Linked DNA regions of Homo sapiens. The protein of the gene in region 1 purifies or fractionates together with the protein of each later gene. This does not show direct contact. Each region holds a gene or a part of one and is shown in the gene's direction. Other genes may lie near its edges. The genes, in order: MACROD1, ERC1, EIF2AK2, XPC, HTATIP2, H3-7 and DHX9.

The links.
Region 2: the proteins of MACROD1 (region 1) and ERC1 purify together in Homo sapiens (affinity purification with mass spectrometry, with the first as the bait; one study listed by BioGRID). This does not show direct contact.
Region 3: the proteins of MACROD1 (region 1) and EIF2AK2 purify together in Homo sapiens (affinity purification with mass spectrometry, with the first as the bait; one study listed by BioGRID). This does not show direct contact.
Region 4: the proteins of MACROD1 (region 1) and XPC purify together in Homo sapiens (affinity purification with mass spectrometry; 2 studies listed by BioGRID and IntAct, with this or other methods). This does not show direct contact.
Region 5: the proteins of MACROD1 (region 1) and HTATIP2 purify together in Homo sapiens (affinity purification with mass spectrometry; one large-scale study listed by BioGRID and IntAct). This does not show direct contact.
Region 6: the proteins of MACROD1 (region 1) and H3-7 purify together in Homo sapiens (affinity purification with mass spectrometry; 2 studies listed by BioGRID and IntAct, with this or other methods). This does not show direct contact.
Region 7: the proteins of MACROD1 (region 1) and DHX9 purify together in Homo sapiens (affinity purification with mass spectrometry, with the first as the bait; one study listed by BioGRID). This does not show direct contact.

The regions. Positions count from the first base shown.
Region 1 is NC_000011.10:64,158,958-64,163,293, reverse strand, and holds part of MACROD1 (ADP-ribose glycohydrolase MACROD1), read left to right. Parts: intron 1-4,336. UniProt on the Homo sapiens protein: Removes ADP-ribose from aspartate and glutamate residues in proteins bearing a single ADP-ribose moiety. Inactive towards proteins bearing poly-ADP-ribose.
Region 2 is NC_000012.12:1,021,781-1,026,116, forward strand, and holds part of ERC1 (ELKS/Rab6-interacting/CAST family member 1), read left to right. Parts: intron 1-4,336. UniProt on the Homo sapiens protein: Regulatory subunit of the IKK complex. Probably recruits IkappaBalpha/NFKBIA to the complex. May be involved in the organization of the cytomatrix at the nerve terminals active zone (CAZ) which regulates neurotransmitter release.
Region 3 is NC_000002.12:37,098,316-37,102,287, reverse strand, and holds the end of EIF2AK2 (interferon-induced, double-stranded RNA-activated protein kinase), read left to right. Parts: 3' UTR 1-3,078; downstream 3,079-3,972.
Region 4 is NC_000003.12:14,154,027-14,158,362, reverse strand, and holds part of XPC (DNA repair protein complementing XP-C cells), read left to right. Parts: coding exon 1-352; intron 353-1,867; coding exon 1,868-2,028; intron 2,029-4,329; coding exon of another isoform or gene 4,330-4,336. UniProt on the Homo sapiens protein: Involved in global genome nucleotide excision repair (GG-NER) by acting as damage sensing and DNA-binding factor component of the XPC complex. Has only a low DNA repair activity by itself which is stimulated by RAD23B and RAD23A.
Region 5 is NC_000011.10:20,366,164-20,370,499, forward strand, and holds part of HTATIP2 (protein HTATIP2), read left to right. Parts: intron 1-1,010; coding exon 1,011-1,118; coding exon of another isoform or gene 1,119-1,217; exon of another isoform or gene 1,218-1,492; intron 1,493-4,336. UniProt on the Homo sapiens protein: Represses translation by preventing reactivation of elongation factor eEF1A. May also inhibit nuclear import by competing with nuclear import substrates for binding to a subset of nuclear transport receptors.
Region 6 is NC_000001.11:143,904,870-143,908,067, reverse strand, and holds H3-7 (histone H3-7), read left to right. Parts: upstream 1-2,090; 5' UTR 2,091-2,101; coding exon 2,102-2,512; 3' UTR 2,513-2,558; downstream 2,559-3,198. UniProt on the Homo sapiens protein: Core component of nucleosome. Nucleosomes wrap and compact DNA into chromatin, limiting DNA accessibility to the cellular machineries which require DNA as a template.
Region 7 is NC_000001.11:182,859,252-182,863,587, forward strand, and holds part of DHX9 (ATP-dependent RNA helicase A), read left to right. Parts: intron 1-741; coding exon 742-933; intron 934-4,336. UniProt on the Homo sapiens protein: Multifunctional ATP-dependent nucleic acid helicase that unwinds DNA and RNA in a 3' to 5' direction and that plays important roles in many processes, such as DNA replication, transcriptional activation, post-transcriptional RNA regulation, mRNA translation and RNA-mediated gene silencing.

The DNA.
Region 1 (4,336 bases):
AGTTTCACTCTTTTTGTCCAGGCTGGAGTGCAGTGGTGTGATGTCACTGCAACCTCTGCTTCCCGGGTTCAAGTGATTCTCCTGCCTCAGCCTCCTGAGTAGCTGGGATTACAGGCACCCACCACTATACCCGGCTAATTTTTGTTTGTTTGTTTGTTTGTTTGTTTGTTTTTTAGATGAAGACTTATTCTGTTGCCCAGGCTGGAGTGCAGTGGTGTGATCTCAGCTCACTGCAACCTCCGCCTCCGGGGTTCAAGTGATTTTCCTGCCTCAGCCTCCCCAGTAGCTGGGATTACAGACGCGTGCCATCACGCCCGGCTAATTTTTTTGTGTTTTTGGTGGAGATAGGATTTCATCGTGTTAGTCAGGATGGTCTTGATCTCCGGACCTCGTGATCTGCCCGTCTCGGCCTCCCGGAGTGCTGGGGTTACAGGCGTGAGTCACTGGGCCTGGCCAATTTTCTTAAATTTTTTTTTTTTGAGATGGAGTCTTGCTCTGTCACCCAGGCTGGAGTGCAGTGGCGCGACCTTGGTTCATTGCAAGCTCCTCCTCCTGGGTTCATGCCATTCTCCTGCCTCAGCCTCCCGAATAGCTGGGATTACAGGTGCCCGTCACCATGCCCAGATAATTTTTTGTATTCTTTAGTAGAGACAGGGTTTCACTGTGTTAGCCAGGATGGTCTCAATCTCCTGACCTCGTGATCTGCCCGCCTCAGCCTCCCAAAGTGCTGGGATTACAGTCGTGAGCCACTGTGGCCGGCCAAAATTTTTAAAATTAATTTAAATTTTTTTCGAGACAGGGTCTCGCTCAGTTGCTCAGGCTGAAGTGCAGTGGTGTAATCATAGCTAGCTGCACCCTTAAACTGCTGGGCTCAGCGATCCTCCTGCCTCAGCCACCTGAGTAGTTGGAAGTACAGGCGCGCATCACCATGTGCAACTAATTTTTTTTTTTCTTTTGAGACAAGGTCTGTTGCCCACGCTGGAGTGCAGTTGTGAGATCTCAGCTCACTGCTTCCTCAACCTCCTGGGCTCAAGCGATCCTCCCACCTCAGTCTCCCAAGTAGCTGGAACTACAGGCATACGCCACCACGCCTAGCTAATTTTTTGTATTTTTTTGTAGAGACAGAATTTTGACATGTTGCCCAGGCTGTTCTCAAACTCCTAAGCTCAAGCGATCTACCCACCTCGGCCTCCCAAAGTGCTGAGGTTACAGGTGTGAGCCATGGGCTGCTAATGTTTTAAAACCTTTATTGTAGAGACTGGGTTTCACCATGTTGCCCAGGCTGGTCTCAAACTCCTAAGCTCAAGCGATCTACCCACCTCGGCCTCCCAAAGTGCTGAGGTTACAGGTGTGAGCCATGGGCTGCTAATGTTTTAAAACCTTTATTGTAGAGACTGGGTTTCACCATGTTGCCCAGGCTGGTCTCAAACTCCTAAGCTCAAGCGATCTACCCACCTCGGCCTCCCAAAGTGCTGAGGTTACAGGTGTGAGCCATGGGCTGCTAATGTTTTAAAACCTTTATTGTAGAGACTGGGTTTCACCATGTTACCCAGGCTGGTCTCAAACTCCTGGCCTCAAGCAATCCGCCCACCGCAGCCTCCCAAAATGCTGGCATGACAGGTGTGAGCCACTGTGCCTGGCCAAGTGTATTTTTTAAGCCATCACATTATGGGAGATCTGGGGGGCTGCCCCAGCTGGACTCTGCCTTTGATTAGGGTCTGAGCCGTGGCCCTTGAAGACTGCTACACTTTTCATCGTTACATTCAAATCACACTTTCAGCCAAGTTACATTTGACAGTCAAGTGCTGCAAGTGTAGAGATCTTCAGTGCACAGTGTATGCAACTGTGCAGTCACTACTTGGGTCAAAAGGTAGAGCATTGCCATCACGCCAGAAGTCGCCTCTTTTCACTTGGTACTGTCTGGAGCTAATCACTCTTGTGATATCTGTTCATTTTGTCTCTTCTTGAAGTCTGGCCCCTTTTACTCAATATCCGGCCAGTTCGTCCTTGTTATTGGATGTGGCAATGGTTCCCTCTTTTTCATTGCTGTATAGTGTTCCAGCATATGAACGTACCACAGCTTGTTTCCCACTCTTTTGTTGTTTTGTTTGGTTTTGTTTTTTGAGATGGAGTCTTGCTCTGTCGCCCAGGCTGGAGTGTAGTGGCACGATCCTGGCTAACTGCAACCTCCGTTTCTTGGGTTCAAGCGATTCTCCTGCCTCAGCCTCCAGAGTTGCTGGGATTACAGGCACCCGCCACCACGCCTGGCTAATTTTTGTATTTTAGTAGAGACGGAGTTTCACCATGTTGGCCAGGCTGGTCTCAAAATACTGACCTCAGGTGGTCTACCTGTCTCGGCCTCCCAAAGTGCTGGGATTACAAGTGTGAGCCACCATCCCGGCCCCCACTCTTTTGTTGATAGGCATTTGGGTTTCTTGTGAATAAAACTGTGCTGAACATTTTTTTTTTTTTTTTTTTTAGATATGGTCTCATTCTGTTGCCCAGGCTGGAGTGCAGTGGTGCAATCACAGCTCACTGCAGCCTCCAACTTCTGGGCTCAAACCATCCTCCCACCTCAGCCTCCTGAGTAGCTGGGACTATAGGCATGTGCCACCATGCCTGGCTAATGTTTTTAAAAATGTCTTGCAGAGACAGGGTCTCATTATGTTGCCCCAGGCTGGTCTCGAACTCCTGGGCTCAAGTGATCCTCCCACCTCCGCCTGCAAAAGTGCTAGCGCTGAGATTACAGATGTGTGCCACTGTGCCTGGCTTCCTGAACATTCTCTCCATGTCTCTGATGGACATGTGCTCTCATTTCAGGGCTGTACCTAGATAGGCCTCCAAATACTTGTCTGCCTGAGAGGATCCTCTCTCAAAGCCTGGCACACAGTAACCAAACTCACAAGAGACTGACGTATAGGTCAGAAGGCATATGTGCAGTTTGTGGTGGGGAAATATAATGGCAGTGGGTCTGAAAACTCAGGTGTGCCTGAGCAGAGCCTCCTCTCCCTATGGGAAAGCCTCATGGAAGCCAAATTGTAATCTTAGGATTGCTCAGAGCATGCGATCTTATCCAGGGCTGGTTGAGTGATTTTGGAAGCCTTGCCCTGGGCAAGGCAGGTAAGCTTCCCTGTTTGAGAAGGGTCAGCCCACCCACAAGGATCCCCTTCCCCGGGCGTTTGCTCGGTATTTCCATCTATATGCAGTGCTGAGTGCCTGCTCTGGACCCATGGAAGGATGCCCAGCCCATGGCCCAGCTTGTCCTCCAAGCTGACGGCCAAATTCAGCTTCCCCCTGGACACTCCTTTTCTTTACCTCCAGGCTGACGCTCATTTCCATGGGCCCATTCTCCCTCTAGGTATGTACATACCTTCAGGCTGGATCTTCCTGGCTGGGAGACTTTCAGTCTTTTGGGGACACTTCAGCAGTGTCTGATTTTACTAGCCAGGGGTTACTTTCTCTAATTTATTTTTATTTATTTGTTTTTTTAATTTTTTTTGAGACCGAGTTTCGCTCTTGTTGCCCAGGCTGGAGTGCAGTGGCGCAATCTCGGCTCACCACAACCTCTGCCTCCTGGGTTCAGGCAATTATCCTGCCTCAGCCTCCCGCGTAGCTGGGATTACAGGCATGCGCCCCCATGCCCGGCTAATTTTGTATTTTTAGTAGAGACGGGGTTTCTCCATGTTGGTCAGGCTGGTCTCAAACTCCTGACCTCAGGTGATCCGCCCGCCTTGGCCTCCTGAAGTGCTGGGATTACAGGAGTGAGCCACCGTGCCTGGCCTGTTTGTTTATTTATTTGAGACAGGGTCTCACTTTGTTGCCCAGGCTGGAGTGCAGTGGTGGTATCTTGGCTCACTGCAGCCTCCGCCACCCAGACTCCAGCAATCCTCCCACCTCAGCCTCTTGAGTAGCTGGGATTACAGGTGTGTGCCACTACACCGGCTAATTTTTGTATTTTTTTTTTTTTTTTTTTCTGAGACGGAGACTCGCTCTGTCACCCAGGCTGGAGTGCACTGGTGCAATCTCGGCTCGCTGCAACCTCCGCCTTCTGGGTTCAAGCGATTCTCTTGCCTCAGCCTCCTGAGTAGCTGGGATTACAGGCCTGTGCCACCACACCGGCTAATTTTTGTATTTTTAGTAGAGACAGGGTTTCACCATGTTGTTCAGGCTGGTCTCGAACTCCTGACCTCGTGATCCACCTGCCTCAGCCTCCCAAAGTGCTGGAATTACAGGTGTGAGCCCCTGCACCCGGCCTCATTTTTCTATTTTTTGCAGAGACGGGGTTTTGCAATGTTGGCCAGGCTGGTCTTGAACTCATGAGCTCAAGCAATCCACC
Region 2 (4,336 bases), on another chromosome or scaffold:
ATCTGAGCCCCTCCATGTCACCTTATGGGACTTGGGGATAACAGGGAGACAGTGCAAACATGTTCATGCTTGCTGCGCTGTGAGTAATAAAAGTTCTTTGTGTTTGACCCAGGAGACTCATGTATTCTGTCAGTATCCATGAAATGGTCATAGGCTAATGTATTAACCTGTAAGTAGGGTTAAATAAAATCCTAGTTCCTTCACAGTTCTCAACATTACTTATGTTTACTTTAGTGTGATACACTGTGAAAATAAGCTATACATTTTATTTTCTGTTCTATTTATCTGTTTATTTTAGAGATCCTATCTCTATTCTCCTATAGATAGGATCTTGCTATGTTGTCCAGGCTGGTCTTGAATTCCTGGACTCAAGCAATCCTACTTCCTTGGTCTCCCAAAGTGCTGGGATTACAGGCACAGGCTATTGTGCCTGGCCAAGAAGTACATTTTATATTGTGATCCAGTATGCACATGTGCATGCATATGCACACCTGAAACATTGCAGAAAACAATACTGTTATCTCTTGTTGCATTACAATTACTTCAGAACTTACTGGATTTGAAAAACAAACATCTCAGATTTCATGAAGAGTGTGTTGGGTGATTCTGGCTCAGGGTATGTAGTGATTTTATTTCATTTAAAACAAACAAGAAAACAAGCTTGGTTGCAGCTTATCAAGCTGATTTCACAACCTACTATTGGGTCATAATTCTAAGTTTGAAAAACACTGACTGGGGACTGTTACCGTTTGGCTGTGTCCCCAGCAATCTCATCTTGAATTGTAGTTCCCATAATCCCTACATGTTGTGGAGGGACCTGGTGGTAGCTGAATCGTGGGGTCGGTTACCCCATGCTGTTCTGATAGTGAGTGCTCACGAGATCGATTTTATTTTTTCTTTTTTGAGACAGAGTCTTGCTCTGTCACCCAGGCTTGAGTGCAGTGGCATAATCTTGGGTCACTGAAACCTTTGCCTCCTGGGTTCAAGTGAGCACGTCTGGGTAATATTTGTATTTTTAGTAGAGATAGGGTTTCACCATGTTGGCCAGGCTGGTCTTGAACTCCTGACCTCAAGTGATCCACTGACCTTGGCCTCCCAAAGTGTTGGGATTACAGGCGTTAGCCACCGCGCCCAGCCTAGATCTGATGGTTTTGTAAGGGGCTCTTCCCCCTTTGCTTGGCACTTCTTCCTGCCGCCATGTGAAGAAGGATGTGTTTGCTTCCCCTTCTGCCATGATTGTAAGCTTCTTGAGGCCTCCCCAGCCCTGCAGAACTGTGAGTCAATTAAACCTCTTTCTTTTATAAATTACCCAGTCTTATGGGTAGTTCTACATAGAGCTTGAGAATGGACTAATACAGGACTCTGAGGCTAGAGGCAGGCAGTCAGGTTAGAAAGTTGTTTTAATTCAGGTAGGATAGGATGGCATAAACCAAGGTAATAATTGTGGGAATGGAGGAAGAGGATCAATTTAAGAGGTACCTAGAAATCAAAGCAACAGGAATTGTATTGTTTTGATAATATGTGTGTATATGGAGTATGAAGATTTTGGGAGGACTCTCAGGCTCTGGCTTGAGCAGCTGATGTTATTCATGTGAATAGATGTTGTCCACTACCATGTTCTTTTTTTGATTTTTTTTTTTTCCCCTGCAGCAGCAGGTTTGGTTTTGGAATGGGGAGACCTTGATACGGAGTTCAGTTTGGGGGCATGGTGTATTTGAGGTGCATGTGAGGAGTATAAGTGAAGATGTCCAGAAGTGGGATACATAGTTTTGATTCTCAAAGGAGAAGTAAAAAAGTACTGGAGAAGTAGTGAATTTGGAGTCTTTGTTGTACATATGTTATTTTAAGCTGGTGGAGGCAGGGAGAAAGGATTTCTTAAGGATGATATTGTAGTGTGAGAATAACATAGGGATGAAGATCAGAAACATTTAAGGGAGGAACGAACAAAGAAGGAGGAGGGTTAGAAGAAAAGAGCATATGATATAAAGAAACCAAGAGAGGAGAGTGTCAAAAAATTGGGAGTGCTTAAGAAACAAGATGTATTATAGACAGAAGTTAAAAAGGCATTAGAGAGGAAAAGTGTTCATTAACTAAGGTTTCTCTGGAGAAGCCAGAGGGAATGGGGACTAAAGTACCCTGTGGAAGGATTAGCTGTAGCCCACTTCCATCAGAATAGAGGAAGTTAAGGATGGTTGTTGCTGTCAATGAACATGTGGAGAGAGAAAGTTGAGATAGTTCCTGTTTGATTTCTTTGTTTCTCTCTTATGTAGGAGATGAGATACGTAAATTTGATAGGGCTGCTGTAAGAAAGTACCATCAGCTGGGCACGGTGGCTCACGCCTGTAATCCCAGTACTTTGGGAGGCTGAGGCAGGCGAATCCGTTGGGCCCAGGAGTTCGAGACCAGACTGGGCAACATGGTGAAACCCCACCTCTACCAAAAATACAAAAATTAGCTGGGTGTGCTGATGCTCGCCTGTAGTCTCAGCTACTCGGGTGGCTGAGGTGGGAGAAGTGCTTGAGCCTGGGAGGTTGAGGCCACGGTGAGCTGTGATTGTACCACTGCACTCCAGCCTGGGTGACAGAGGAGACCTTGTCTCAACAAACAAAAACACAAAACATCTCCCGCCTCTCCACCCCGCTCCCCCCACAGGTTTGAAACCACCTGCCTGTTATTTCAAACCACCTGTGTGTTCACATTTTTGAGGACTTTTAACCTGTTTGACCAGAATAGATACTGTCTTTAGAATCTCATTTTTGACAATATGATTTACTTGGTACTGTTTTCAATGAAGAAACACTTATAAGAATCAATTTACATAACAATGGATTTTGGGAAAATATTGTTTAATATGCTGAAGCCTGTTGTTACTTGACCTAAGCCAATGCTTTGAAATGATGCTAGGAAATCAGAGAGATCTAGTTTAGATCTATATTGTCTTTGAAAGAAGTCTATAAAGTTGATAGCTATAGTTTAGTGGGTTCTGCATCCACAGCTCAAACCACCTGTGGACCAAAAATATTTGGGAAAGAATCTTAAAGTCACCTTGAAAAAAAAAGTGGAAAAAAAAAAAAAAAGAAAATACTTGGGAAAAAATAATACAACATGGAAAAATAATACAAATAAAAAACACAATAAGTATAACAACGATTTACATAGCATCTACATTTTATTAAGTATTATAAGTAATTTAGAGATGATTTAAAGTATGCTGGAGGATATCCATAGGTTTTATGCAATTACTGTGTCATTTTGAATCAGGGACTTGAGCATCCTGGGATTTTTGTTGTCTGGGGCAGTCTTGGATATCTGGATACGTTCTACTGGAGCCAGTCCCCAGCAGATACCAAGGGACAACTGCCTGTGGTTTTAAAATTTGTTTTAGTTATACTTGTAGAGTATGAACATGTTTTCTTTTTTGAAAAAAAAATTCAGGTGCTTTATGGTAGTTTGAGTGTAAAGCTTTCTAAGTTGAGCTAAAGCCTCCACAAACATTTTTCCCCTTTATAACACAAGTTTCCTTCCCTCTAATTATCGCTGTTTCAAAATTGGCATTTCCCGTGTAGGAATTCTTTACATACTCTGTTTACAGATCATTATACTTATGTTCACTGTATTTTTCACCTAGCTTTTGGTTTATCTTTTAATTTTATTTACAGCATTTTTTGGTATAATACTTTGTCATTTTGACATAATTAAGTGTGTTGGTTGTTTTTCTTTATGGTTTTTGCTTCTGGTTTTTTATTTAAGAAGCCTTTTCCTAACTCAAGTTCACAAGGATATTCTTCAAAATTTTCTTCTAGTACTTTTAATGGCTTAAAAAATTTATATCTTTAATGTATATGGAATTTATTTTGGTGTACTATGTGAAGACGAGTATACGTTATGTTTCTCAAAGAGCAACAAGTATTTAAACTTCATTTATTGAGTGATTTTTCATTTCCTCACTGTATTAGTCTGTTCTCATGTTGCTAATACAGACATACCCGAGACTAGGTAATTTAAAAAGGAAAGTTTTTTTTTTTTTTTTTTTTTGAGACGGAGTCTCGCTCTTGTCACCCAGGCTGGAGTGCAGTGGCGCGATCTCGGCTCACTGCAATGTCTGCCGCCTGGGTTCAAGCTTCTTATGCCTCAGCCTCCTGAGTGGCTGGGATTACAGGCACCTGCCACCATGCTTGGTTAATTTTTGTACTTTTAGTGAGATTGGGTTTTGCCGTGTTGGTCAGGCTGGTCTCGAACTCTTGATGTCAGGTGATCCACCCGCCTTGGTCTCCCAAATTGCTGGAATTACAGATGTAAGCCACTGCACCCTGCCAGGAAAGAGGTTTAATGGACT
Region 3 (3,972 bases), on another chromosome or scaffold:
TTTGTTTGTTTCTTTTGGTGAAGTATTTAATTGTAATTTTTTTTTTAAGAGACAGGATCTCACTCTGTCACCCAGGCCAGAGTACAGTGGTACGATCACAGCTCCTTGTAACCTCGAACTCCTAGGCTCAAGTGATCCTCCTGCCTCAGCCGCTTGAATAGCTGGGACTACATGCATACACCAACACACCCAACTAATTTTTAAATTTTTTGTAGAAATATGGTCTTGCTGTGTTTCCCAGGCTGGTCTCAAACTCCTGGCCTTGAGAGATTCTCCTGCCTTGGTCTTCCAAACTGCTGGGATTACAATATCCGGCCCTACTGGAATATTTTAAAGTAAATCTCAGGTGTTACATCATTGCACTTGTAAGTACTTTAAAATGTATCTCTAGCAGATAAATCTTTTTAACAAAACCACAGCATCATTGTCACACTCAAAAAATTGACAAGATTTCCTTAATTATCATATAATAGTCTGTATTGTTTCTATCTCAAAAATACAGTTTTCTTGGTTGTTGAAATCTAGATCCAACATTGCATTTGGTTGATGTGTCTCCTTTACTCTGTAAAATTTACCCCTGCGTTTTAGTTCTTTTCGGCTTTTATTTGTCCTGTGGAATTTCCTCCACTCAGGATTTGACTGAGAGTATCCCCAGAGTGTCCAGTTAGACCTAGAAGCTGGATTTGATCCTGGTTCATTTATTTTCCCCCAAGAATACTCCATAGGTGATGCTATACACTTTCTCTTACATCATTTCAGGAGGAACATGATGTCTGATTGTTCCACTTTCAGTGATTTTAATATTGATCAATGAGTTCTGGTGGTACCAACTACTACAAAGTTTCTCATCAATCTTTCACCTGATGGTTTTAGCAGCTATTGATAATTGTTGCCTGGATCCATTATTTCATTTCAGGGGTTGTAAAATAGTGATTTTCTGGTTCTATCAAACCTCTTGCATTTATCATCTATGATTCTTCTTTAAGGAACTTTCTCTAAATCTGAATGGGAAAGATGCGATAAATATTTATCAAATTTTAGAGTGAGTTAGTGCCCTAGCAACCTCCACAGTTGACAAATGAGTATTTCTTTAAAGCAAGGTATGGCCCAACCAATACTTTGAAACTAGCATGTTTAGAATAGAGCAGGAGGAAACTATATTTGAAAGGTCAGAAGTGGAAAGACTAAGAGGGCCTGAACAATAAGAGGACAGAACCAAGAGGAGTTGGCAACTAATTGGATGTGGGGATTAAGGAAAGGTAAGCATCAAAGATTACCTCCAAGTTTGTTAGAAGGTTAGTAGCAGGATTCTGATGCCATTCAAGTAAATACAAGTCTCAGTCAGATGAACCCCAAGAGCCACATGTATTTGAGGGGTACTTTGTCTCACACTTTTACCTGTTACATGGTTTTCAGTAATTTAGAATTTAAGCCAGTAGTGGGGCGACTGTACATCTATCGACATGGTGAGGTAGAGCATGTTTGGGAGGAAAGACGTTGAATCCCATTTGGTGACAGTGAGCTTGAGGTGCTGCCAGAACACTGCACTGAAGATAGGAGGAGACTGTAGGAAATACAAGATAGGAAAGGTCTCCACTGAAATGTTAACTCTTTCTCTCTAAACGGCCATCCAGGCCTCAATGTCTGCAGTTTCTGATCTGTGATTATGACTTATCCAAATCTTACATTTCTTAAAAATAGTCATAGATGAAGGGAATCACAGTTGATAGTTATATGGTGACATTATTGGCTTAAATTCTAAATAACTAGAAACTGTATAATAGGCAAAACTGTGAGGCAAATAAAATGCTTCTCAAATCTGTGTGGCTCTTATGGGGTTAATTTGATTTGGACCTGTATTAATTTCTTATGGCTGCTATAACTAACAAATTACCACAAACTTGGTGGTTTAAAACAACACACATTTATTCTCTTTCTGTTCTGGAGGCCAGAAGTCTAAAATGAGATTCACTGGGCTGCAGTTCACTGGGCAAGGCCATGCTCCTCTGGAGGCTTCCATGATGCATCCCATATTCAGTGTTTCCCGAGTAAGCCCCACCCATGCAGGTCTGCAGTTTTACCTCAACAGGCTTTTGCACTCAGTGGCTCTCTCCTGTGGTTTCTATCTGAAATTCTCTTCATTTTTTTTTTAATAACTGCTTTATTGAGATATAATTCACATGCCATACAATTCACCTATACAGTATACAATTCAGTAGTGTTTACTATATTCAGAGTTGTGCAACTATCATTTTTCTCACCCCCAAAAGAAACCCTATGCCCGTTAGTATTCACTCTGTTTTCTCACAACTCTAGGTAACCACTAATCTACTCTCCATCTCTATAGATTTGCCCATGCTAGACATTTCATATAAATGGAATCATACATGTGGTCTTTTTCACTGAGTATATTTTCAAGGTGCATCCCAGCTGTGGCATGAATCAGCATCTCATTCCTTTTTATTGCCAAATAATATTCTATCATATGGATATGTCGCATTTTATGTATCCATTCATCAGCTGATGGACATTTGGGTTGTTTGTACTTTTTGGCTACCATGAATAATGCTACTATGAACTTTTGTGTACAAATCTTATGTGGACTTGTTTTCATTTCTCTTGGATGTATATTCCTAGGAGAATGGCTGGATTATACAGTAACTCTTTCCTCATAACTTTGCATATCAAAATTATATCCATCTTTCAGAACCCAAATTCAGTGTTATTTCCAAAGTGTTCCAACATCTCCCACTCAAAATGAATCTTCTCCCTAGTACTCCCATTGTTTAGTACCTAATTGTTCTTACCAGTTTGTCTTAGAGCTCAGTCATTCCTACACAGCACTTTTCTTCATTATACTGCTAATTTCATTACACTGTAAGAGTGGGGACAAGCTGTTCTTCTTGTATACCAGAAAGTAGTGAGTGCACTGCTGTGAAGAAAGCAGGAACTCAAAAGTTAAGAATTTTGAATGAGCCTATAAAATGTGTCTAATAAATAATAATGTTCATTTTCAAATCTCAACAATTAAATGTTTAACAAATAACACTTGAAATAAATGTTTATTAGAAAAACCAATTTGGTATGTTAAAGTATTTATTTTGAATTTCAGAAACTACAGAATTCTGGATTTTTAATTAAGAAAATTAGACATTTTAGAATTTCTAGATAGGACTTTGAAAATAAACATGGCACAATATACACAAAAGTAAATGACAACATGACATTAAATTTTACATTGTTTTGCAGTTTCAAATTTCGTATTAATGTTCTACAACAAATTTTAAAATTCTTTTCAGTGTTTTGCTTCCCTTGGTGTTCATTATTGCCTATTTATAAAGTCATAAAAGGCCTAAAAATAACTTGTTACTCATATTGAAAGTCTGATTTTTTTTTTATTCCCTTAAGATGGAGGTCTCTCACTATGTTGCCCAGGCTGGTTTCAAACTTCTGGGCTCAAAGGATTCCCCATCTCAGCCCCCTGAGTAGCTGGGACCAAAGGCATGCACCACTGCACCCGGCTGAAAGCCTGTATTTTTATCTTTCGATGGACAACAGAGGGATATCTCCCACTCTCTAAGCCGGTCTAGTTCTAGTACTAGGCCTGTAAATGTAGACCACAATCCTGGTGAAGTCATGGGTTCCATCAGTGTTATCCTGGCATTCTCAGCATAATTGTCATGAACATATTTAAAATATTTTAGGCCACTGAGCAGGTGTGGGTTGTCCTCATAGTAACAGGAGAAAGGGAAGCCAGTTCCTGTCTAACTCCATTCCATCTGAAATTATCCATTTGGCTTTGGGATTTGACTGAATGTTGGTATGTTGGCTGAAATGACACCACAGTATTGACTGGAATTGCAAGGGTAAAATGTACTCCTCTGTTTTATTAATAGCTCTCTCTCTCTCTCTCTCTCTATATATATATATATATACATACATATATATATATAATTTTTTTTTTTGAGACAG
Region 4 (4,336 bases), on another chromosome or scaffold:
TAAAAGAGGCAAGAAAATGTGCAGCGATGGTGAGAAGGCAGAAAAAAGAAGCATAGCTGGTATAGACCAGTGGCTAGAGGTGTTCTGTGAGCAGGAGGAAAAGTGGGTATGTGTAGACTGTGTGCACGGTGTGGTGGGCCAGCCTCTGACCTGTTACAAGTACGCCACCAAGCCCATGACCTATGTGGTGGGCATTGACAGTGACGGCTGGGTCCGAGATGTCACACAGAGGTACGACCCAGTCTGGATGACAGTGACCCGCAAGTGCCGGGTTGATGCTGAGTGGTGGGCCGAGACCTTGAGACCATACCAGAGCCCATTTATGGACAGGGAGAAGAAAGAAGACTTGGAGGTAAGGCCTTGGCTGCCAGGGGCTCCAAGACACAGTCAGGTTATTAAAATTATTCCTGTTTTTGAGCACCTTATATATGCCCAGCACTATGTTGGGTGTTTTTAATGGGTTGTCTCATTTAATTGTCACAGCCATATAAAGCTGGGGCAGTTGCTGCCTTAATTTTAGTGTAAAAAGTTGTGGAGTTGAAAGATGAACTGCCGCGGTGCTTGAGCCCAGGTCTGTGTGGCTTTGGAGCCTGTATACTTTTAGTTATTGCCCAGTTATAAATTTGGAGCTTTAAAATAATTTATGCAAGTAATATAACTCAGACTGAGTGAAAGAAGGAATAACCCATGGATATATTCTCCCCCCTCCCCCATCATGCGTGAATGTAAAGATGTACGTGCAAACACCCCTCATACATAGAACACTCACCTCCTGGGAAAGAGGGGTCTCGGAATGAGACAGACATGATACTGTCTCGGAATGAGACAGTATCTTCAGTCTATTGAGAAGGCAGACCGGGAGGCAGAGACTTCTAGAACATGACAGCTATGTCACTTGATCCTAGAACCAGCACTGACACCAGGAATAGTGCCCGAGCCGCCTGTGTGTATGGCAGTGGTGGTGGTGGGTGGAGCTTGCCATTTCTACACAGGAACATGCCCAGATTTGTCGCAGGTTTATTTCCAATCCCTCAGGATAGGTAAATTGCAGATTTATTAATCATTTCCTATAGGAGTGCAATGCATCCCATATTGAGTGTTTGCTCCAGGGGTGCATTTTACTTAGTAATGCTAAGTAAAATGGGTGCATTACTAAGTTCATTTTACTTAGTAATGACAGGTTAAGTGGAAAGTATGCAGATGGTATCGTAACTAACCTACCTAAAGCGCAGTGGAAGCTGAACGTGCAGCGTCCTCTCCCACTCTCAGCAACTCCACATTGCCAGTCCTTTCTAGTCTGTTGGGGTTTTTGAAGAGATGCCAAGGGCAAGCCTTAGAGAGCCTAGTGAACAGGGTGACTTACAGCAGTGAATTGCCTACTGAGAAATGAGCAATCTCAGAGAAGGGCAGAGAGAACACTGTCATAGTGGACGAAGAGAAAAGTCGCAGGGTGAGAACCGCTGCTCTCAGTTTCCTGTGAGAGCAGACAGGTAAGCTCACGCTCTAGAAGAGGATTGTCCCTTTGAAATAAGACCTTCTTACTGAAGAGCACTGTGTGTTTTTCTTCCTTGCAGACCTTTAACACATCTGCTGGGGCTGGGTTAGGTGTCTAAGCATTCAAATAGGTTAGACAACTTTTTGAAGTTGCCACAAGCCACAGATTTATTTGATTCTTTAAAGCTTTTGATTGATCTGTAACTGACTTACTGGCCGGAGGTACAGATGCGATGTTACAAAACCATTAGTGTTCATGAAACCTTGGCTCCACCATCTGTTGTCAGAACAAGTTAGTCTAAGGATCATCTCCCTCAAACTTCATTTCCTCTTCTAAATAACATGCTCAACCTTGTCTGTCTGGCCTTTGCAGTTTCAGGCTAAACACATGGACCAGCCTTTGCCCACTGCCATTGGCTTATATAAGAACCACCCTCTGTATGCCCTGAAGCGGCATCTCCTGAAATATGAGGCCATCTATCCCGAGACAGCTGCCATCCTTGGGTATTGTCGTGGAGAAGCGGTCTACTCCAGGTGCGTGAGGCAGCCTGGTTGGCCTCAGGGGCTTCCTGATGGCATGGGATTAGCAGCCTTCTTCCTAGGCAAGGGTTGCTGATGGGAGCTCATCTGACTGGACAGCATTCTCGGGCTGAGCCAGTGTGCGTGTGCTGTGTGTGTGTGATGTGTAGGAGAGAAGAAAATTTGAAAATTAAAACAGGGATTAAAAGAATGGCAGGGGAAAAACAGTTACAGGGAAAATAAAATACAAAGTAGGAAAAATAAAATTTAAGATAGGGCAGTATAAAACACACCCCACAAATATAAGTCAAAAACATACAAAAGGAAGGAATAAAGGATTTGATTATGAAAGTTAAAAGTGAGTGGATTTTTCATGGGTACAGAGCCCTGTTTGGGATGAAAAAGTTCTGGGAATGGATGGTGGTAATGGTTGTACAATGTTGTGAATGGACCTAATGCCACTGAACTGCACACTTAAAAATGGTTAAAATGGGCCGGGCGCGGTGGCTCACGCTTGTAATCCCAGCACTTTGGGAGGCCGAGGCGGGCGGATCCCGAGGTCAGGAGATCGAGACCATCCTGGCTAACACGATGAAACCCTGTCTCTACTAAAAATACAAAAAATTAGCCGGGTGTGGTGGCGGGTGCCTGTAGTCCCAGCGACTCGGAGAGGCTGAGGCAGGAGAATGGCGTGAACCCGGGAGGCGGAGCTTGCAGTGAGCCAAGATCGCGCCACTGCACTCCAGCCTGGGTGACAGAACGAGACTCCGTATCAAAAACAAAAAAATGGTTAAAATGGTGTATTTTATGTGACTGTGTTTTATACCACAGTAAAAAGAAATAGCTAAAAAAAGAGTGGAATAAGAGCAAAAAATGAATAAAATATATATAAAATTAAAATTGAAAAATGTTAATACAATTTTGAGGTAAGAAAAAAATAGAAACAGGAATTTTGAGAAATGGGAATAAAAAGCAAGTAAAATAAGTGATTTTAAAAGACATGGGATGTACAAGACCAAGAAATAGGAGATGTTCTTAATAAATGAGAAAACAGGAAGGTACAGAAAAGAGAAAAAGGAAGCGTAGGGAAACCCACATGAGAGTGGGCGATTTGAGTCCTCCCACTGGGGATGACTTCCTGCTTGTCAGCCCCCCATGGGAGTCATGCTGGACCCTCTCTTCAGGGCTCTGCCCTGTCTTGGAGCTTTCTGTTTGATGTCGGTGGGGGGCATGATGCCCTGGGCAGGGGCAGGGCTTTGCTGTTCTGGGACTTTAGCACCCAGCAGTCAAAGGCAGCAGGGGGCCTGGGCTGCCCTGATAGAGGCTTCCTCTTATGGGTATGTACGGGTAGTCGGGAGAAAGCCTGTTGGGAAGAGAATGCAGGCGTCGTCCAGAGGCACCATGTCAGTGACAGAAGGAAGCATTAGAGGTGCATATTTATTGATTTATTTTTTATTGTGGTAAAATATTTATAAATTTTTTATAATAATTTATAATATTTATAAATTATATATATTTATATATATAAATAAATTTATAATATTTATAAATATTATAAAATTTACCATCTCAACCATTTTTTAAGTGTACAGCCTACAGCATTAAGCACATTCACACTGTCATCCAGCCATCACCACCATCCATCTCCAGATTTCTTTTCCTCTTCCCAAACCAAAACTCCGTCCCCATCAAAAACTCCGAATTCCCCTTCTCCAGCCCTGCACCCACCATTCTCCTTTCTGTCTCTGAGTGTGCCTACTATAGGGACCCATGTAGGTGGAATCATGCGGTATTTATAGTCACATCGTGACTGGCTTATTTCACTTAGCATAATGCCTCAGGGTTCATCCATATTGTAGCATGGGTCAGAATTTCCTTCCTTTTTAGGCTGATACTCCATTGTGTGGGTGGACCACATTTTGTTTGTGCCTTCATCCATCAATGGGCACTTGGCTCGTCTCCACCTTTTGGCTGTTGTGAATTATGCTGCTGTGAACATGGGTGTGCAGATAGCTCTTCAAGATTCTGCTTTCAGTTTTTGTTTGTTTGTTTGTTTGTTTGCATATACCCAGTACAATTACTAGGCCAGATGGTAATTCCCATCATTTTTTTAGGAACCACCTTACCATTTCCACCGCAGCTGCACCCATTTTACATTTTCACCGACAGTCCACAAGGTCTCCACTTTCTCCACATCCTCACTGACACTTGTTACTTTCTGTGTTTTGTTAATAGCCATTTTAACGGGTGTGAAATGGTTAGAAGTTCACATTTATTCTGAGAGGACTGTGTCCATTTCCCTGCTGTTTTCCTTAGGAAGATG
Region 5 (4,336 bases), about 44 Mb from region 1:
CGATCTCAGCTCACTGCAAGCTCCGCTTCCTGGGTTCACGCCATTCTCCTGCCTCAGCCTCCCGAGTAGCTGCAACTACAGGTGCCTACCACCACAACCGGCTAATTTTTTTTTTGCATTTTTAGTAGAGACGGGGTTTCACCATGTTAGCCAGGATGGTCTCGATCTCCTGACCTCGTGATCCACCCACCTCAGCCTCCCAAAGTGCTGGGATTAACAGTGAAACCCTATTTTTCTTTAGTGTCATAGGCAGTGCCAGAAAAATTCTTTTCAGAGTTGACAGTAAGGATGGAAACCAACATTTTATCGGAGTTCTTGGATGATAGGAATTTATCATGCTTTCTTTTTTAAGTTATACAGCAAACTGATAAGGTTAGATGGAGGTTCGTAAACTTCTGTGTGCATGAGAATTAAGGTGGGTGCTTGTTAAAAGTGCAGATTCTGATTCAGAACTATTGGTGTGGGATGTAGGAATATGCCTTTTTATTAAGCACTCCCTGACTAATTATAATGCAAATGGTTCATGGATTGGACTGAAGGAAAGATTATCACCCCCATTTTACAGCTGAAAAAAAAAAGCTGTAGTGTATGATGAATAATTTGCCCGTAACTACATGCCTAGTGAGTGTAGCAAGCCCAAGATTTGCAGCTAGGTCTTCTTTAAGATGCCAAACGCCATCTCTTGCCCTCACATCATACCTCAGTGGTCTCCTTCCTGGTTAGCTACACACAGGTCTTTTATTTTTCCAGAGAGAGATTATAATCGAACCTGACTTCAGAAATCTGGATCACCCCTAGTCCAGTTATATAGACTGTGGACATATGTGTGTGTTGTTGATTTTCAACTGAGGTTCATTGCTTTTTGGTTGGAGAAAAGGAATTTGTAAAATTTGATGTTAAGTGGACAGGCCTGTCAGTAATGTTCTGTAACTTAGTCTTTAAATCTAGAGGGGGTTTTTGGTCTGTTGTTTAAATAACATGAAACTACATACAACTGTGTCCTTGCCTAGAATCAAGAAGTGGTGGACTTTGAAAAGTTGGATGACTACGCCTCTGCCTTTCAAGGTCATGATGTTGGATTCTGTTGCCTGGGTACCACCAGAGGGAAAGCTGGGGCGGTAAGGAAGGCATATGCTCTTTTCCCTTTTTGCTGGCCAGTAATATCAAGGATTCTTTTCTTGCTCACTCTTTTTCTTTGTGCCTGTTGCAATGCTTAAATGTGAATAAGCCTTTATTGTTTAAGATTCTATATGCTGCACTAACCTTTGGTATCCTTTTAATAGTACTGATAAGTTCGTCTTTCAAAGTAATCCTTGAGTTCAGGCCCCAGTGCTGGAGACGTCGTAAATATTTACATGATTTTGCCTATTGTGATTATCGCTATCACTACATCCCCTGACTAAGGGAAACCATGATGTCTGAGTAAAACTAATTGGTTTATGCTGTTAACAATCAGCTGTTTTTCCCCTTAATAAATGTTTGAAATTTGAAATGTTCTGTCTCACTTGAGTGATTTGCTTCAACTTATTTTCATGTCAAGCTTTAAACTTCTGGAATAGAACATCAGAACACAGGCACGATTCAACCAGCCTCCAGCGATGACTCAGCCTTCAGCGATGATTCAACCCCACTAATGATTCAGTCTTTACTGACGCAAAAGTCTTTTAACGCACATTTTATTTTCTTTTTAATGGTGTTCTAAATTGAGTCAGCTCCTGTACAGAAGTCATAGTTTACTACATAGTTAGAAATCAGAGTTTACTACCTGGATTCTGGGCAAATGTTAGTGCGGGTACATCTTATTTAATTTATACTTTGACTATAGTTTATTCCTCTGGCAGAATTTACATGCTGGAGCTGAAAAAACCTGCATGTTCTGCATATGTATCCCAGAACTTAAAGTAAAATTTAAAAATATTTAATAATAAATACATAAATAAAACAGAAGAAAGTGAAAAAAGTAAATAAATAAATAAAGCCGAGGCACAGTGGTTCATGCCTGTAATCCCAGGAAAACAAGAAAAAAGAAAAAATATATATATATATGACTATGACTCTGCCATGGGAATTCTCCTTAGGTTTATAAGCCAGACCCCTTCACCTGAAACATTAAGGGAGCATATAGTGAAGAACTATTCATTTATACCAACCGAGTAGTTAGATTCAGATGTATTTCTTTGGGCCTCCTTGTGATGCAAAGAGTAATTCTATGTATGCTTTCAATCAAGATGTATTTCCATACCTTCTGCAGTTCTGCCTATCTGTCCTGGAACACAGCTGGGATTGGAGCTCTGTGATGGGAACTATGGATTATAGAGAAGTTTGACTTTCCCAGGAATTGGCACATTATCTCTCCTAGAAAGGGTCATGTTCCTGCTTAACAGTGGGTGCAGTCTTTTCTGTCCCAGGCACAGTCACAAGTGGTGTGCCCTCCAAAAGCATTGAAAAACTTTTGTTCCAGGACACTGCAGGTTTGTCTCAAGTGCCAACCTGGTTTTGGTGGTGAGTCAGCAAAACAAAATGCTGCATTAGGCATAGAAGGGTTGATTTTCATGACATAAGGCAAATCTCATTATAGGGTGTGCCAGGGAAAAGTCTAAACTGCTTTTTGTGTTCAAAATGGGTAATGCAATTTTAATCAGAGGAATTGTGTGTCTTTACTATCCAGAATTTTCTTTTTTAATGGGGTTGGTTCTTCACGTCTCAGGCTATTCAATACCTTTTGTTCTCCTTTAAAATCAATTTGGAAAGATAAAAGTAATTAACTAGTAAGCAAGAATAGACTAATGAGCCTAGACTATTCACCTAGCTTAGAAATGAATTAGGACTTAAATGATTTAAGAGGTTAGTGGTGGAAAGCAAGCTGACACTTATACCAGAAAAGTGTTTTGTTTGTTTTGGGGGCTTTAAAAAAAAAACTAATTTGGGCTGTGTACAATATAAAGTTGGGAGGTTGATAACTTTAGCCAATATGAAAGAGGTGACAGTTCATATGTGGCTAAGTAACGATAGTGTTTTAAGTGGAGGTTGTGGATTTCCAAGCTTATCCCAGCTGGTGTTCTGGGTCAGCAGCCCTCTCTGTAGAAAAAAGTTCGTTGGGTGGTTTATCATATGAGTACTACAAAGCTAGTGGCAAAACTAGTACGCTTCACTAGGGATTTTGTAACTGGAACACCTCATATATTGCCTTAGCAGTCTGTGTTTCCAGCAGAGAAACTTCAAGAAATTCAGCGTTTTTGTCTCAGTATTGAGATCCTCTGTGTAGGTGGCTTATTTCCATGTGATGTTCAGTGTATTAGTTTGCTAGGGCTGCCATAACCCAAGTAGCTTGAACAACAGAAACGTATTGTCTCACAGTTCTGGAGGCTAGAAGTCTGAGATCCAGGTCTCAGCAGGCTGGTCAGTGCTCTGAGGCTGAGCCCTTGAGTTTCCAGGCCCTCTCCTTGTCTTGTAGATGGCAGCCTTCTCTTTGTGTCTCTTTACGTGGTATTTTCCCTGAATACCTGTGCCTATATCCACATTTCCCCTTTTTATAAGACCACTAGTCATACTGGATTAGGGACCACCCTATTTAGTATGATCTCAACTAATTACATCTGCAATGAACTTATTTCCAAATAAGGTCATATTCTGAGGTAATGGGGGTTAGGAGTTCAACATACGCATTTTGGGGGGATGTAATCCAACCCACAAAATTCAGTCTACTCAGGTTTCTATTGACACTGGTTCTAGGAAAAGGTCTATTAGCTTTCCTCAGCTGTTTGGAAGACTATTTCCTTTAACAGTAGCTGGGCAGATGCTAATCTTCCTTTTCATATTCACAGAACACAGTTGTTCAGTCAATGCACTGGCTCCCTGACTTGGCCCTGATCCAGATCTACTGCATCAGCATCTCTGAATTTGGAAGCTTGGAATCTGTATTTTTAGCAGGCTCCTTGGGAGATCCTGATGCAGTCAACCCTGTCCTTCTTGTTGAACCTACTTTCAAGAGGCATTGGGGTGTATTAATTCCCCTCACTTGCTGGTTTTCTGGGTACTGTGGTCCTGGATAACCTTTGCCTTGCTTTAGTGAGTAACTTGTTTGCTAGTGAAGATTGAAATAGCCTTTGAAAACCAGATCTGTATTGTCCTGGAGTGAAGCACAAAAACTTAGAGATGCCAGTGAGAATAGTTCATTTCCCCTTATTTGTATCAAAAGAGGGATTTGATTAGTGAATTCAAGGTGGTTCGATGTGGTTTCACCTTTTCATTTGTTTCCTCACCTGGTCGTAGTAGGCTCCAGAAGTCCAGGTTCTTGTTTTCTGTTGAGTGGATGATGTCATTAATGTGATTAGTG
Region 6 (3,198 bases), on another chromosome or scaffold:
CTGATTGAATGCCATTTTCTTATTTAAATGAACACATCCTACATTATGGTCAAGACTGCATACATCATAGAGAAAGTATATTGCAAAGAAAAGTGATGCTTGGGTGGGCTGCTTTGGGCTATCATCCAGATTCCATGGGGTAGTTTTCCCTTCTAATGGGAATAGTTGGGTGTAGATGTTTGAGAAATACTAGATGATGTGATTGCATGATGGGAAAACGCTTTTGTGCTTTAAACTGTGTTGGCTGGGTGTGTGGGGCTCATGCCTGTAACCCAAGCACTTTGGGAGGCCGAGGAGGGTGGATCACCTGAGGTCAGGAGTTCGAGACCAGCCTGACCAATATGGTGAAAACCTGTCTCTACTAAAAATACAAATAAATAAATAAATTAGCTGGGGGTGGTGGCTTGCGCCTATAGTCCCAGCTGCTCAGGAGGCTGAGACAGGAGAATTGCTTGAACACAGGAGGCGGAGGCTGCAGTGAGCAGAGATCCTACCACTGCACTCCAGCCTGGGTGACAGAGTGAGACTCCATCTCAAATGAAAAAAAAAAAAGGTATCCTCTAAGCCTAATGAAATAGAAAGTTTCATCATTACCGTTTCATTCTTTTGCTTTAGAATATTACACAGGCTTTGTTACTTACCCAGGACAAGCCATAATTTCTCTGAGACTCAGTTTTCTTATCTGTAAAGTGAGAAGAGTAAGATCTATTTCACAGAGTAGGGATTAAATGATAAAGTGTATGTAGAAGAACTTTAAACACTGAGTAGTGCCTGCTGTCTGTAAGGCATTATTACAAAACTACCACAGAGAGGGATAACATTTGTTCACATCAGTTACACTTTTGTACATTTTAGATCTCTCGAGAGGAGGATGCTTCTGCCCATGAGAGACTCTTGAAGATATTAATTAAGCTCACAGATTTCTACTTTGTGTTTAGTGTTCAGGAAGTCCCCTTGAAATCACTTTTACTTTACTTTGACTTCAGTAGGAAGATAGTTCATAATGACACCATCAAAGTAAGTTTTAAGCGTTTCGGGCCTGCTTTTCTCAGGTTTGAGTTTTTATAGTTTGTAATGATTTTTTTAGTAAAATAAGCATATGATTAAAAGTTTTATATTAACTACTACAACTTTTAAGTATCAGTTGCTTCTACATAACCACTATATTTACTGTTCTGAACAATACATACTTCAAAGCACATGAAATTGAAAAAGCAAAGCATCTTTACTCTCTTCATAGAGAACAGAAAAAAATATTAAACTTTTAAGCATTATAAAATACTTTATTGAATAAAATGTTAGCAAGTCAGCAATTGATGAATAATTTGCTTTGAAACTTTAACTTGTAATCTGGCTAATTAGCACTAATTTACAAACTATTCTACATTGTAAAGGAGAAATGAATTTCTGGTGTTGTCCTTCTTTGATTTAGAAGCTTAACATCTGCAGGACCTAATTGGCCATTGATGTGAGGGTGAGGAAGAAGGAACCACATCGCAGGGAGAAAAGACTAAAGGAAGGCAGAGGCTCTAATATCAGGTCAATATAGGTCAGCACACTACCCACATGAAATGGCTTTGGCTGGGTTCCAAGGTCAAGTAAATAAGATCAATTTTTTCATTCCTTCAATTACATATTTTTTTGCTAAGCTTCGGTCATTCATGGTATACAATGCATCTAACTTGCTGAGCAAAATGCTAGACATGAAATAAATGTTAGCTATGGTAGAAGAGCTTCAGTAACAGGTAACCTGAAACAGGCTGATAGCTCATAGAAGGGCATGCTTGAATTCGGGGAAAAAAAAAAATCTCTGTTAAAATGGGATGCAAAACACTTTATACATTGCTTTTACAAAAGTTAGACTAATTTAAAGGAAAGTCTTCAAAAGCAATCCGTGATCGATAAAATTACAGAAAAAAATCAGGAAAGGGGGAAATAATAAGGGAAGAAAGATTAGCAGAACAATCTTCCGCCCCAGTAAAGAGGACTGAATTTTAACCAATGAGATCACAAGTTTGAAAATTTCCTTTTCAGGCCCAATCAAGAGGAGGCTATGTCTATAAATACGACTGCCTAGACCCTCTCGTATCAATGAGACAGCATGGCCCGTACTAAGCAGACTGCCCGCAAGTCGACCGGCGGCAAGGCCCCGAGGAAGCAGCTGGCTACCAAAGCGGCCCGCAAGAGCGCGCCGGCCACGGGCGGGGTGAAGAAGCCGCACCGCTACCGGCCCGGCACCGTGGCTCTGCGGGAGATCCGGCGCTATCAGAAGTCTACGGAGCTGCTGATCCGCAAGCTGCCCTTCCAGCGGCTGGTACGCGAGATCGCGCAGGAGTTTAAGACGGACCTGCGCTTCCAGAGCTCGGCCGTGATGGCGCTGCAGGAGGCCAGAGAGGCCTACCTGGTGGGGCTGTTCGAAGACACGAACCTGTGCGCCATCCATGCCAAGCGCGTGACCATCATGCCCAAGGACATCCAGTTGGTCAGCCGCATCCGCGGGGAGCGGGCCTAAGGTATATTTTTAAGTGGTCGATCTAAAGGCTCTTTTCAGAGCCACTGCCGTTTTCATCAAGAGCAGCTGTACCGGCTCTCCATCTGATGTGCGTCTGCCTTGCGCAGCGGTCAGGGGCCAGGGGCACTCGTGGTGGGTGACGTTACAGAACCCAAAGCCCAGCCGTGAGTTGGCCGGCAGTAGAGAAAGCCGCAGAGGCATGGTCCTTGTGGTTCCGGCCGAGCCTTTTCACGCTGGTTTAAGGCTAGAGGTCCGGCTCCCAATTCTGTGGGTAAAGTTTTGCATGGGGGCAAGAGACTATGGGGAGTTTCTAGATGTGGAAGATCCTGAGTGTAAGGGTGGGGCGAGTCCCTTAAAAATTATAAACTCGTTTCCTGGTTTATTTAGGAACTATAAGCTTAATTAAAGCTCAGCATCTTCCTCATTGCATACTACAGGCGGTGTCCAAGCCAGAATAGTAATTTAAGCGGGCGGGAGTAAATATCTGGCGATTTTTAAAAATGTGTGGGTGAGGTAGTATTTCAAGGAAGAGAAAAAAATTTCCACAAAGTATAGAATAAAAATGCAAAAACGAGGCAAGAGAGTTAACTTGTCTAGCTGGCGTTAAGATTTCTTCCGTATGCAAGTCTAATGGAAAGTGAAAACCAAGAAAAAAACCTCAAGCCGTTGAAACTATCGCTTCACCT
Region 7 (4,336 bases), on another chromosome or scaffold:
TAGTTACCCCTGAAGTTAGTTGCTATGAGTTGAGGGCCTGTGAGAGAATTTCACTTCTTAATGTAATTTAATAAAAGTGGAGAGATTTAAGGCAGTGACTCCTTTTGTTGTTGGTTTTTTTGTTTGTTTTAGTGTTTTCCAAATAAAAAATTAAAATGTTAAAAAGAATGCGTGTGCGACTTTCAGGGACAATGAGAATTTAGTTTTTGGACAACATCAAAAGATACATTCTTCAGAAGTGTAGTGAAAAGAAGTAGTTCTATTAGAGATATAAATATACACATTCTTTTTTGAAAAAAACATTTTCATCACTAAGCCAATGGAAATGAGTAAGTTTTTATAGAGATGGAAGTTTGGTTTTTTTGTTTGTTTTTTTCTTGAGACAAAGTCTCGCTTAGTTGCCCAGGCTGGAGTACAGTGGCTCAGTCTCGGCTCACTGCACCCTCCGCCTCCTTGGTTCAAGCAATTCTCCTGCCTCAGCGTCCCAAGTAGGTGGGATTACAGGCACACCCCACCACACCTGGCTAATTTTTGTATTTTTAGTAGAGATGGGGTTTCACCATGTTGGCTAGGCTGGTCTCGAACTCCTCACCTCATGATCCTCAGCCTCCCAAAGTGCTGGGATTACAGGCGTGAGCCACCGCGCCCAGTCTATAGAGATGGAAGTTTTTTAAAGGATCAAGACAGTTGCTTCTAATGTGTTGGTAGACATTTGACTGAAGTGTGACTTTTCTAATGCAGATCTTGCAGGAGAGAGAGTTACTGCCTGTGAAGAAATTTGAAAGTGAGATTCTGGAAGCAATCAGCCAAAATTCAGTTGTCATTATTAGAGGGGCTACTGGATGTGGGAAAACCACACAGGTTCCCCAGTTCATTCTAGATGACTTTATCCAGAATGACCGAGCAGCAGAGTGTAACATCGTAGTAACTCAGGTAAGTGGTAAACCAACCATGAAATACCTAGAGAGCAGACTATTTCTGATTCTTTCTTTGATTAACTAATTTTTGTAATTATTTAAGATTGAGAGAGCATTGTGCCCTTGAAATTAAATTTAAAAAAAGAAAACATAAAAACAACGTAGTCTTTTTCTAATCTCTAGTATGCTACACTAATAAGCTAAACTGGACTATGTGAGGGATTCTTTTTATCTGGGCTAAAGAGTCTCTGGGCCTAGAATCAGACTGTCGAGATTAAGAATTCTTTGTCCTAAAGTTCATCCAAATCTTGGTCATCTCTATCTAACCACCTTGATATTGAGTAAAAACCAGTCAGACAGGTAATGGTTAACTTTCACTGTATGCCATGTTCTATTCTAAGCAGTAGCTTTTTAGAAAAAACTCAATCGAAGTTCATAATGACCCTAAGATGTAAGTACTATTTCACATAGTATTTCTCTTTCAGTAAATTAAGGCATAAAGAAGGTAAAATGCCCAAGGTTAACACAGAAAGTGGTAGAACTAGGATTAAAAAACCAAGCAATCCGCCTTTTAGGATTCTTCCTTTTAACTAACACTGTATTACCTTACCAGCAATGAGCAGCGCCTGCATGTTTGTCCCAGTACTTAGGGAAGAACTGATTAGCTCTTCTAAGTGCTCTCAGGTTAAACAGTTCCGTTGGCTCTACCCTGTACTTCTGGCACTTTGTGGGAGAGCATTGCAAATAGCCAGGTACTACCTCTGAGGTAGGCTTACATCTTGACTTAGAAATTATTTTTTCCCCGATGGGTTAATGTTGCTTAACCTGGGAAACATAATCAGTTTTCAGAGGAGAGTTACAAACTTTGAAATGTGTGCATGTTCATTTACATTTGCATGTATAAAGCATATATCTGAAACTTTTTAACATTTCTGAAATTGAGATACATTTTTATAATTAGTATATTTGTATAATTGTATAATTAGTATAATTGTATATTTTATGTGAGAATTGGGTTTTCTCCTGAAAAAAAAAATTGCTGTGAAGGAATCATGTTGCATCCTAAGGCTGATGATACCTTAGGCTTGAAAAAATATGATAAATTGACATTTTTCTGGGAAAGGATTCCTAGCTTGTTCACAAAATTTTCTTTGATTTTCCGACTCACCCCTAAAACTGGCTATGGATTTTTTGACTTACAGTGAAGGCTGCAGCCCCAGATGTCATCATACTCCAATAAAATATTCTTACTCTTAATTCTTACCTCATCTTTCAGGAAGAACATTGTTCAAGAGTGCAATTTTACAGAAGAGAAGCCTTGAGCTCAGCTCTGCTCTGCTCTTCTCTTCCCTTCCTCTCCCTTCTACCACTATCCATTTCTAATCTCAAAAGCAGTTGTGGCATATAGCAGAAAGAAGCAGAATTTAACAAGCGAGCTGTGAAGACAGGAGTCTCAAGTTGTCTGCATGTCATAAATAGAGTAAAAATTCCTGCCCAAGTGAGAAGTGCTTTGTCTCACTGTCTTTTAAAATGTTCAGTGGCATGGAAATGTATTAGCAAACCTGTGTCTTCTGATTTGGGGTGAATTACTTATAACTCATATTGCATCTACATTCTGTGGCTTGCATGTTTTTGTCCTAGCGTTTGTCCCAAAATCAGTCTCATACCTCTTACCTGTAACAAGTCTTCAAAATTTTAAAAACCTATATTGTGTCCTAGTATGTACTTAGTTTGAAAGTCTCAACTAAACATTTATAGTTCAGCCATGAAGGTACAGTAAGTCTAAGATTTAAACACACTCAAATTCATCAGCACCTACCTGTAATATGAAAAGTAGGCCTGAGCATGCTGATTGGTTATTACAGAATACAGTTTTTTATTATTTTTGTTTTTAATATACTGTACTTCTTTTGGCACAGTCTGAGATAGCATTAGTTATTTTTGTAGTACTACCACTGTTGAATCATTTTTCCATTATCTTGCACTTGTAGCCATCTATAGGAAACCACATGAAGTCATCAGTTAAGTATTAGAAAGTTTTTTTATGTTCCTGATTTTAAGTGTATTATCTCAGTTCACAGAGCACAAGTTTAGAGTTATGGACTGGCGTATAACAGAATGAGTAGCTCAAACCATGACATCAGCCTTAGTGTAAATTCTCAACCAAACTCACTGAATTTTATCCTTCGGTCTATCCATACTCAAGCCACTTAAAACCTGTGGGCTGTATGCAGAAAATTTTAAGTAGGAAATAGTTGTCTTCTACCTTTAAAGTTATTTGAAAGAGATGAATTGTAATTGTAGGATGTAAATCAAGCATATTAATGTAATTTTATCAATCCTGTACTTACCCCATAGTACCATCATTTCAGGATAAGAACGGTTCTTTGTATAAAATAAATTCAGAACCTTAGAAGATAGAGATAGTGGAGCCTGATACATTTTGTAGTATCTAGTGCATTAGGAATCTTGACATTTTGTGGCAGCTTAGTCATGTTACTGTGTATATAACGCTTAGATGTGAAAAAGCAAAGTTGGGACCTTTTAGAACTTCAGTTTTGAAAGATGGAAGAAATTGCTGTAGTTCTGAGTAAATGGCAAGAGGTGTACATTAAAGGTATGGATTCTAGAATACTACAAAATAACAGTTTGGGAGAGATCTCCAACCTCTTATGGTATAGAAAGTGTTAGTTACCCAGTACCTGGTACATAGTAATTTCAGTGACTGCTTAGTACATATTATTAGAGCTACTTCAGTTAAAGCAGACAGAAGTGTGGGGAAGAGGTTAGCACTTGAAATTACCTACTACTATGGCTGGACTCCAGGCAAGAGTAGTAAAATTCTAAAGAGAAAATGAGATAAGCAGATGTATGCAATGAAAATTAAAAGCACATATCTGGAGGACAGTTGGAACTATTCTTCCAGCTTTCTGTTGGAAAAATATTATCCTTTGCTTTCATCACTGGTACTTTCTAACTAGTCTCACTTTTGTCGGTTATTGTTTTATTTTTAACATATTTAGTAATCCAAGTGTAACATAGTTAAAATAATAAAAAGTAAAATAATTGGAGAAAGGATTATATTGGGAGTAAAGGAAATTTGAAGTCTTAAGTCATTTATGTGTCCTTAGGCAAAATAACCTTTTTGAACTTGTGTTTTTAATCTACTAGAATGCAGCAGGAAAAGATTTTACTAGTATTCTGAAGCATAAATAAGGCATATTTGCTGCCATGGTTTTTACTGTTATATTACACAAATACGATTTCTAGATGTCTCTGTGTTCTTGGTTCTTATTTATATTTGAGTAATATAGAATATGTATATATTCCTTATAATAGAAGTGGCCGTGCAGGTATAGATAGAACTTGTTTTACCTATGAGCCTTGCCTTGTATTTATTCACTGTGGCAGAATATATA